Homo sapiens: one gene and its partners. The gene in region 2 interacts genetically with the main gene of each other region. Each region holds a gene or a part of one and is shown on either strand. Other genes may lie near its edges.

What was found.
Region 1: of ATG10 (region 2) and NOC4L, changing one suppresses a phenotype caused by changing the other (phenotypic suppression), as found in Homo sapiens cells (one large-scale study listed by BioGRID).
Region 3: of ATG10 (region 2) and VPS13D, changing one enhances a phenotype caused by changing the other (phenotypic enhancement), as found in Homo sapiens cells (one large-scale study listed by BioGRID).

What each region holds. Positions count from the first base shown.
Region 1 is NC_000012.12:132,142,884-132,146,632, reverse strand, and holds the start of NOC4L (nucleolar complex protein 4 homolog), read right to left. Parts: upstream 2,177-3,749; 5' UTR 2,145-2,176; coding exon 2,028-2,144; intron 1,780-2,027; coding exon 1,659-1,779; intron 1,075-1,658; coding exon 968-1,074; intron 1-967. Other genes in the region: ATP-dependent RNA helicase DDX51, read left to right, coding at 2,337-2,640, 2,724-2,938.
Region 2 is NC_000005.10:82,051,882-82,055,530, reverse strand, and holds part of ATG10 (ubiquitin-like-conjugating enzyme ATG10), read right to left. Parts: intron 300-3,649; exon of another isoform or gene 197-299; intron 1-196. UniProt on the Homo sapiens protein: E2-like enzyme involved in autophagy. Acts as an E2-like enzyme that catalyzes the conjugation of ATG12 to ATG5. ATG12 conjugation to ATG5 is required for autophagy. Likely serves as an ATG5-recognition molecule. Not involved in ATG12 conjugation to ATG3.
Region 3 is NC_000001.11:12,509,215-12,512,622, reverse strand, and holds the end of VPS13D (intermembrane lipid transfer protein VPS13D), read right to left. Parts: 3' UTR 576-3,408; downstream 1-575. UniProt on the Homo sapiens protein: Mediates the transfer of lipids between membranes at organelle contact sites. Functions in promoting mitochondrial clearance by mitochondrial autophagy (mitophagy), also possibly by positively regulating mitochondrial fission.

The DNA of each region.
Region 1 (3,749 bases), on a different chromosome or scaffold from region 2:
AATTATAGACAGACGTGTTGGCGAGGATGTGGAGTATGGAACTCTCAAATGCTGCCAGGGGGAGGGTAAGATAGCGCAGCTACTATGGAAAACAGTCTTGTAGTTCCTCAGAACATTAAAAACACAGCTGCTGTGTGGCCTTGTAATTCCACTGATAAGGCATATTCAAGCAAAAGAAACATCACACAAGAGTTTGTACGCGAACGTTCACAGTCCGCTGTTCGTAACAGCCAAAGGTGGAAACGACGCAAATGCCCAGCAACCTACGAGCGGCTGAACGATACGTGCTGTGCTATACGACGCGCTGCTACTCAGCCACAAAGAGAACGAACTTCGAACACGCCGATGAGTGGAAGAAGCCACATACCGTATGATCCCCCTTATGAGGAGCGTCTAAAAAAAGCAAACCCATTGATCCAGGAAGTAACCACTGATCCAGGAGTGGCTGCCTGGGGCTGGGGGTGGAAAGGGGCGGGATATGGAAGCGATGGTAACTGGTACAGGATTTCTTTTCGGGGCGATAAAGATGTTCTGGGATAGCGGCAACCACTGCACAACACAGTAACAGATGCTAACTTCTCAGCTTTAAACGGTAAACTGTGCCTCAGTTATTCCTCACTACAGATTTTAAGAAAGCTCATAATGCATTCCCATGGCTGCAGACCACAGTGTGATCTGAGCAAACACATCTGTGGACTGGCACGAGGCTTGGTGTGCGTGCTCTATGCAAACACAGAGATCCCCGTGGATGCCACTGGAAATGAACACGGATTCTGCGTCTTCAATATTCACTACAGGACTCGATAGCCATGTTTCTGAATGGGACTGAACACCCACAGGGTGATGCTCCCATGAAGGAAGCAGCTTTGCCTGGACAATTGTGGGAGCCCCAGACCTCTGCTTTGTGGATAACCTGGGAGTTGGGGTGCAGGGGATGGACAAGGATGAGGCCAGCCCAATGACCCACCTTGACCTGAAAGGAGGGGTGGCCCAGGAGCTCTCCCAAGCGATTGCAGCAGCTGTGATAGCGGTGTCTCATCCACACCTTGTACTTCCGTGTGGCTCCCTGGGACCCTGCAGACAGGTTAGGGTGGTCAGCCCACGTGAGGCCCACATACGCCACCCTGGGCCCAGCCCAAAATCTCAGGCCTGGCTCCACCCTCCCATTGTCTTCTACTCAGCCTCCGCAGGTGGAAACAGGTCGCTAAGGCCCCCAGACCTGTGCTGAGACCAGCACATTCCCTGAGCCCTGCAAACAGGAAGAGCACCTCCTACCCCAGGACTGCCCCAGCCAAGCTGCCAGGAGCAGGATCCACATCCCCTCTCTTTACTCCAAGACCTGACGTCCCCAGGATGGGGACATAAAGGAAGCTCCGAGTTTAAGCGACCGTGTCAGGATCAGTCAACATCAAATTACAAAAGGGGTGCAAAGCACACAAAAAGTCGTACCTTGTCCAGTGTTCATCTACACTCAGCTGCAGGGCACCCATGTCACCCCTGCCCCAACGCCACCATCCATCTTCCACGGTGGGCTTGGTGCGTCCTCCCACCAGCCTGCACGGCCTGTGCCAGGGTTGGGGGCGCTCATCCCATGGTGACAAAGCCTCCCTCCGACCCACGGAAAGAGAAGAGCAGCCCCGGGGCCCTCCAGGGCTCACCTGTCATGACCATCTCCTCAGAGGGCAGCTGGCCCACAAACAGCTCTCCCCGCTCCAGCAAGGCCCCGAAAAGACGGCTGCACGTGCGGACTGCTTCCTGGATCTCCTCCTGGTCCTCAGACTGCAGGAGAGGCGGCGGCAGGGTGCCCGGCCGCCAACTGTCACCTTCGCCCCTGCCTAGGCTGCCCCCAACCCGTTCCCTTCCCCCTCGGGACGCCAGCCCCGTCACCCCCGACCCGTGACCCACACGCCTCCCACCCTGACCCCCCAACGCCGTCTCGGAACCTCCTGGGGACCTGCCGCCGCAGCCCCCCATTCAAGTCCCGCTCCCGTGCCGCGACTCCGGCCCTGCGACGCCGCCAGGCCCACCTGCAGCACGGCCAGGATGTCGAACACGGCGTTGGCCTCACTGCGGCTCGCCAGCACCGCCTCCAGCCGGCGGCCCAGAGCCCGGCGAACTCCCGCGGCGCCCGGCTCCCGCTCCATGCCGCCCCCAACACGGAACAACGCGGATTCTCAGCCGCCGGCGCTCCCGTGACGTCACCACTGCGCGTAGAACCCGACGTCATCTCTACGCGCCGTACCCCAACCCCATCTTTTGCGCGGAGCCCGAGTCGCAGGCGTGCCGCCGACGTCATCGCAGCGCGCCACGCCCGAGTCCCAGGCGTGCGGCTGGCCATGGCGCTGTTCTACGTCGCGCGGTACCCGGGCCCCGATGCGGCAGCTGCGGCGGGGCCGGAGGGCGCGGAGGCCGGGGCGCACGGCAGGGCCCGCGCGCTGCTCGAGCGGCTGCAGAGCCGGGCCCGCGAACGGCAGCAGCAGCGGGAGCCCGCGCAGACCGAGGCGGCTGCATCGACCGAGCCGGCGACCAGGAGGCGACGGCGGCCCCGGCGGCGGCGGCGGGTGAACGACGCGGAGCCGGGGAGCCCGGAGGCGCCGCAGGGAAAGCGACGGAAGGCGGACGGCGAGGACGCGGGCGCAGGTGGGCCGCGGGGCGAGCGGGCTCCCTCTGGGGCGCCGGCGACTCGGTGCTGACGCGCTGCCGGGTGGGTGTCTGCCTCGCAGAAAGCAACGAGGAGGCGCCAGGGGAGCCCAGCGCAGGGAGCAGCGAGGAGGCGCCAGGGGAGCCCAGCGCAGGGAGCAGCGAGGAGGCGCCGGGGGAGCGCAGCACCAGCGCCAGCGCCGAGGCGGCCCCAGATGGACCGGCCCTGGAGGAGGCGGCCGGACCCCTGGTCCCCGGCCTGGTGCTGGGGGGGTTCGGGAAGAGGAAGGCGCCGAAGGTGAGCCTCGGCGGGCGGGAGGGTGGTCGGCGTGAGAGGGTAGGCTGCGCGGATTCTTAAGTGCGGCGGTCGCCCCGGAAGATTTCGTTCAGCGAATGTTCCCGGGTCACAGCCGCGCCTCGCTGCCAGGTCTGCAGTTTCATCGCCTAGGGGTCTGGATCCTGCACGTGCAGAGCTCCCGTTTCCTCTGCTAGGCTTGCCCCTGTCCTCCCGCCGCGCCGCGCCAGTTCTGCAAGATGTGTTTGCGTGAACGTGCGGGGTTTCCTGCTGTGCGCTCACCGCCTCAGGAGTAAGTCAGAGGCCGTTCTGCAAGCTCCTGACCGTTGGTGTTTTTGCTTAGCACGTGTGGTTTTCGGTAAAGAGATTTCCGGCGAGACAGGTGAAGAAAGCGAGAAGTTTGACAGAGTGCTCGGGCACCTTAGGTAGGGCAGGTGGAGGAGGTTCTCTTTGAGTTGGGATGCAAAGACTTGAAGCCAGGTCAAGGTTGGGGGTTGGGGGTGCCAGGCAGAGGCCTCGAGGCAGGGACGCCGGCGTGGCTGGGGCAGGCGAGCGCCAGGTCACAGGACCTCCTGGCTGCGGGAGGGTGGGTGCCACTGTGGGTTGATGGGAGGCTACAGAGTGAGTTTGCTCAGGGAGTGGCATCTGCTTTTACTGTTTAACTTCTGAAGGCTGTATGGAAAGCGCATCCTGGGGCTGAGAAGGAGCTGAAGACGACAGAGGTTTCCCCAGCCTCCCTCCCCTAGCTTTTTCCACCGTGGGCTTCTGCGCGAGAGCCTGGAAAGCGCTCACCTGGCCTCTCTTTCTTTTTGAT
Region 2 (3,649 bases):
AAGGGAACATAAAATTTAGTAAAATTCTAATAACAATGCAAAATACATCTCCTTTGACATTAAAAGAGGTGAGTCAAAAATTCGTGTGCACCTATGTTATAAAATCTAAATAAATTATCTGGTCTCTTTCCCAATTAGTTAAGATAAAGAGATATGTCACTTTCAATAATACTTATAATTTGAGGAATTTACTTACATTTTAGGTAATTTCTAATACCATTTTTTTATTATCGATACGGAAGTACGCTGGGTTTTTTGCTCTATATTTGGTAGTGGTGATTTTTTTTCAGTATCAATCTTCTCAGTCAAGATTAGCCTTGAAAAATTAAATATAGAGTTTTTTGGATTTTGATTTCCCTTTAAAGACTTCCACAGAACTAGATGTTTCTTCTACTTTGTTTTAATTTAAGGCAGAAAAATATGTTTTGTGCTTCACTGTTGAAGGATGCTTTTTTAGAGACAAGCAAACTCAAAAGCAGGAGAACCACCACTCTTGTCAGCCCTGCAGTCCACCCAGCCCAGGAAAAAACGATGTCAACTCAAATTCCCCCTTGGCAATGAAGTTTTCCTGACCATTCCAATTAACACTCCTCTCTAGCTTCCCTGCATTCTTTTTGTACTTATCATAGCTTACACTTGAACATTTAACTCTTCTTTAATTTTTTAACATTTGTTAGTTTTATTTCTCCCACTAGATCATAAGCTCAGGGCCTAGGCCTCCATCCTCTAAGGGATGACAAGGTCTTTACAGGATCCAGATTCCATCCCACATAACAACCTGATCCAGAAAGAGTCTGAAAACATCCTGGACAAGCATGAGAGGATTTAAAAACAAAGGGAACCTTCAAGTTTATCCAATTCAAGCCTCTCATTTTAGAGATAAGAGGGTGAAGGACTAAAGCACTTCTAAGAAACTTGTCTTACACTAATTAGTTGGAGGCAGAGCAGGAAGTGGAAAGCGGATCTCTTGACCTGAGTATTCTTTGTAGTACACTAAGCAAATTCTGCAAGAGAGCAGGACCATGGCTTATTGACTCTCGTGGACTGGTGTGGGCCAGTGCTTTGCACTTCAAGTAACAAACTCAAGCCACTCAAGTGTGGTCTGGGGACCAGCCACAGCATAAGCTGCGAGCTCATTAAGACAGACAGGCAGAATCTCAAGCCTCACCCCAGACCTCCTGATTCTGCATTTAAAACATAATCCCCAGGTGATATGTATGCACATTTTGGAAGCACTGAGGCATGTACTGCAATCCCTGACTCAAAGAGACAGCAAACTGACTACATTAACAATGGTTCTCAATCCAAGCTGCACATTAGAACCACCTGTGGAGTTTTCAAACTGTTGCTGGTGTCTCACCTCAGACCAATTAAGTCAGAATCTACCTAGCAGATTCCAGCACAGCAGCCAGAGTTGAGAACCACTGCACTCAATTCCTTGGAGACCCTCTTTTGAACTCAATGAACAGAGTCAATCAGGTAATCTGCAGCTACCTCAGGAGAGAAGTCCACAAACAACTCAAGATCTTCATGAACACCATAGCTCATCTGGAGTTCTCCAAATGCTAAAATCACCTCTGTTAATGCTCTCTTCTTGGAGCTTTGACCATGCTGAGACTGCCTTTGAAGTGGTCTTTACTACTGCCCGAAAAACTAATTTCTGGCAACTTGGCCAGTCTTGACCTGGCCCTCTGAAACTGCCAGTAGTCTTGTAACTTAAAATTGCTCCAAGTCCAACTACACTTCAGCTATTAGGTCTCCTTGCTGTCCATTCACCACAAAGCATGATGCTTCACTCTGTCACTGTAGAAGAATAATTAATAAGAAATGTCCAGCTGTTATAACCCAAACAACTTTCATTATAAAGAGAATACTTCCTCACAGCCAAAACTCTTCCAGTTATCTAAATAGAATGCCCTTCACCTAAGACCAAAATAAGAAATATTTAAATGAGAAAAAAACCCCAAATATGCTAGATGAAAATATAGGAGAACACATATTTTTTAATATGATAAAAACCCAGAAGTCATAAAAGACTGGTAAATTCTACGGCATGCAACGAATTCTTAACACCATAAAGTCAAAAGACATATCAAAATGTGAAAAAGCATTTGTAGCTCATATCATAGAAAAGAACTAATTTTTTCAATATAAAATAGCTTTAATTTCCTCAAAATATAAATAGTTCCACCAAATCAACAGGAAGGGGTCCAATAGCCCAATAAGAAAATGAGCAAAGGATACACAGATAGTTTACTAAAGAGGAAATACATGTAGATAAAAATATGTTCAATGTTAGCCATAAGAAAAATGCAAATTAAAAACTGTGATAACATTTTTTACCTATCAGATTGGCAAAGATCAAAAAGTATGAAAGGGAATGTATAGACAAAGACATGGATAAAACAAGCAGGCACTCTCATACATTGCTGGGGCAGGGGAGTTAAAATTAGCATAAGATCCCTGAAGAGCAGGTTGGCAAAAACTATCAAAATTTAAAATGCACACACCTTGGATCCAGAAATGTTACTTCTAATAATTTACCTTATGGATATAGTCACATATGTAGTAAATAAAATTCATACAAATGATTATTAACATATTATTTTAATAGTATAAGGTTGGAAACAACCTAAATTTCCATCAGTGAAGATTGGCTAAATAAATTATTTTATGTCCAAATAATGGGATAGTATGTAACCACAAAAATAATGAATGAGTTCTGTAAATATTGAGTAATGACCAAGGCTGACCATTAAGTTATTTTTTAAAGCGCAGAACAGTATGAATATATGCATGCTACCATATGTTTAAATGTAACTGTACAGGCTATGTGTACACTGAATATATCCGGAAAGATACCCAAGACCATGGTATCACTGGCAACCTCTAAAGGTTTGAGTAAGGAAAGTAGAAGGGTTAGAAAGGAGACTTAACTTTTTAATGTAAAACCTCTTTTGTGCCTATAAATACATGGCACTTCATTTTAAACAAATAATTAATTGCCCTTTGCACATATGCCTCCAGGCCACCACATTGCCAGAGTAGATTCCAATCTTAAACTTCTAAGGAGAAAATGTCCTATAGGTCTTATAGAATCCAAGAGAGACAAGCAAGTTTTCTAGTGTAGTGCCGATTGCATTTTGGATGGAGATCTAAGGATTTCCTGATAGAACACGTTTGGGTCTGTTTTAGTACAAGCTGTCATAGGGCTATGCCACCCAGCAAGCTATGTTATGCCTGCTGGAATCCAGCTAACAAAATAATTATAGGGCTTTTGTTGCTGAGTTTAACAAGATCTTCTCTAGACACATCTAAAAGAAAATGGGTGGTTATCTAAGGGTCTAAGCTCTACTTCAGAATAAGGCATTTTATATACGACTTCAACTCAAGTTAACTGCCCAGAATGATCAACTGCAGGAAGGGCTTGACAAGTCCATAAAGGAGGAAGACAACTGAAGTTTCTAGGTCAATGCCAGCACTGATCAAACAAGGCCTTCAAGGTCAGTGGAGCCCTGAGGAATAGGTCAAACCTAGGCCACAGATCTCAAGTGACTGTTCTTTGCTGCTGTAGAAGATCAAACCAATACTATCAGTAGCTGTTCAAAACTGATTAACCTTGGGGTAAAAAGAAGAAACTAGAAACTAC
Region 3 (3,408 bases), on a different chromosome or scaffold from region 2:
CTCAGCCTCCCAAGTAGCTGGGACTACAGGCGCCCACCACCATGCCCAGCTAATTTTTTGTAGTTTTAGTTATACACATAATTATATAACGTGGTGAAAATTTGGGCGACACACAAGGTTATTAATTTTGAGGTGGAGTGGATGGAATAGAGAGGGGCGATATAGTCGGGGTTAGAGATGAGGTTTCATCATGTTAGCCAGGATGGTCTCAATCTCCTGACCTTGTGATCCGCCTGCCTCAGCCTCCCAAAGTGCTGGGATTACAGGCATGAGTCACCATGCCCGGCCTCCTTTGCTGTTTCTTCTTCAGCTGCCTAAACCCTAAGTGTGACGTCTGTCCTGCTGGGGCTTGGACCAGGAACCTCAGAATGGACTGATCAGCAGCCAGTGTAGCGCGGAGACTACTACTTACTCTTGGGAGGCTGAGACTGGTTAAGGTGTGGGGGTGCTTCCCCAGGCCTGGGGGCAGAGGCCACATTTTATTGTGAACATCACACTATGTTTGGTATTTGTCACTGGTGATAGCTCTAGAAGCTGTGGATCACCAAGAGACCAGAAGAAAACAAAAGAACAAGTTTGGGAAGTCCACAAGGCATTTTATTCCACAGGAAGAAAAATGATGACTCTGATATGAGAACCAGACTCAAGAGTCTTCACACACTGGTGACTGTAATAGTGTTTACATAATAGAGAACCAGATATTTTTAGAATTTTATCAAGCAGCTACTATGGTATTTTGAGGCCCAGATCATACTTACAAACAAAGTGGCCCTGGAGCCTTCAGAACATTGCGATGAGCACCCACCAAGCAGCAAGACACTCTTGGGATTTGGGGAAGGGGCCGCTTGTCTGTTTTCCACTGTGTAGTGACCAGGCCCAGGGGCTGGGGAAGCACTGGCCTGGCTCACCCTTCAGTGAGCACAGAGAAGCAGCGACAGCCAGGGAGTGACACGGGTCGGCCAACTGTGCTGGGTCAAGGGACTGGGTAGCTTTGGATATCTCCTTACCCAATTTACTCTTATTCCATTTATTTTACTTTCCTCAGAGACGAACTGTGTGTTTGAAGCAGAAAGAAAAGCAGTAGAAATGATCTTAACAAAGTCTTAGGCATTGCTGGCTGAATATCAGTTTACAAAGAGACGGGGCATTTAAGGAGCCAGGGGCAGGGCCTGTTTCCTCCAAAGCTTTGGATGTTTTCCTGGTGAGAACCAGGAGGGGATGTCAAATGCCCCTGAAACCTTCTGGCCTTGTCTGGCCCAGGGCTGCAGGGCAGGGGAGAGCTGAGAAGTGGAGCAGCTCGCAGTTGGCCCTCCCATCTCCCACCCAGCCCCGCCCTAGGTGGTCTTTGGATTCCATTTTAACATCTGCCTCTCCTAAGGTGCAAATGTCAAAGTGCTTGGTTGTGCAATCACAGGAGATGGGCAGCTATTTAAAGAGCTGATTAAAATTAGAAAGGAGCCCAAGGGGGGCATCTGAACACTTCTCTGGATTCCTCCTGAAGCACCAGCCCACAGGGCAGCCCGCAGCTAACTTCCTCAGTCAGGTCTGAGAACACCCAGCACTGCTGCGGCCCAAAGCAGATTTTCTTAGTAACACTAAACTCCTTAATCTCATCAAGAGATTTCAAGTGACTTTGTTCCAGAAGGTGATAGAAGGCTCACTGACGCATACAATCAACCCTTCCGAGAGTCTCATCTTTTAAGAGATCATGATCTCAGGCAGTAGGTTACTGATGACAAAAACCACAAGCCAAACCTGTGGGGGTGCAAGGAGGGAGGCTGAGGAGGAAGCTGCAGAGGAGCTGCCATCTTGTGCAGTGCTGTATCCTGCTGCCATCTTGTGCAGTGCGTGAGTGCTGAGACAATCATCACCACCCCCCAGCAAGACACACACAAACTAAAACTCACCCAGTGCCGCAAAAGCCAAGTTTCCATTCTGCAATCCACTAACTTGGAGTTCAGCAAAGGCAACCAAGCCTCGGAGTTCAAGAAAGCTGATCCTTGAACACTATGTAGCTACTTGTGCTAAAGCTCCCTTCCTTCCTCTCTGCATGCACGCGCGCGCGCGCACACACACACACACACACACACACACACAGACACAGACACAGAGGGGAAGTGGGAGAGGAAAGGGAGGGGAAGAAGATTAGCTTCATTTGTGTCTTGGAAGGATTTGGGTCATGAGTTATAAACACCAAAACCTTCCACGCATCCACTGATCCACTGAGTCATCCCAGACTCAGCTACATGTGACAAGGTTGTAGAAATTGATTAGCTTTATTAAAATAAAAATTTAAAAATCACAAGGTGACTCATTCATTCTAAAGTGAGGCCCCTTTTCCCTTCTCCCTATCTGCTTAATCCTTACAGAAAAGCGAAACACCAAAAACAAGACCCAGGGCGCTCATACCAGGCCTTGCTCCCAGCAGGAATTTAAAACCAAGGATAAGAGATGCCTTTGTCAAATCTTGGTTCCATGAAAAACTTACCAACGCAGCTTTTTAATACTCCTATTTCATCCCCCTTTCTGGAACTCTCCCTGCTCCCTTCTCATCCTGGGGTTTCCATCCTGTGTCCCCTCGGGCTGTGGAGCTACGATGCCTGCCTGTGGCTTTATTAAAAAGAAAACAGTCCCGGGGCTTTGTTCTTGGTTGTTGCTGCCCAGGCAGGAGAGCACTTTTATGTGGATTTCTGATTTGTTGCAACAGTTCAATGGGACTTTTTTTTTCCTTCTCAATCAACAGAGTTTACCAATGTTTCCAACCTCTCTAATAATAATAACCTGAGAAAACTTACAATGCTGACTTGCACCCATGTGGTAATGGAGCACAGGTTTCCCCCTAAGTTTGGTAAGACTAGTTAGGAAAAAGCCAAATGGATAACTTACATCATAATTTGTAAGAATCTAAGCACTCTTTGTAAAATGGGGGTGAGAAATTAAAAGTGGGCTCCCAAGCCCCTCTCCTAGATCCTTCTGAAGGGCCAGCGCCAGTCCTGGGTGCCACAGCTCACAGCCCAACTGGACAGCCACGATGTCAAAGGCGTCCCTTTCAGGACCACAGCCCTCACCTCAACCCACTTTACTGGGAATACTTTAGTCTCCAAAACTAAGACGTAACATTCTTTAACTTTTAAGAATGCCTTTCTATAGACAGTATCCTGAATTAGACATCTAGAATTAGTGCAATAGAAGATCCAATATAACTTTATATTACTTTACAGTTAACAAACCTTTACACATAGCACAGACCCTGTTCAGAAACGTTCCTATATATTTACAAACACACTGTTGTACATATATACATGTTAACAAAATACAGGGCAATCTAAAAATTAGATTCATCTCAGTACATGTTTTTAAACGTTATTTAACCAATACCTTTAAAAATTATTTCCCATAATCTAAAAT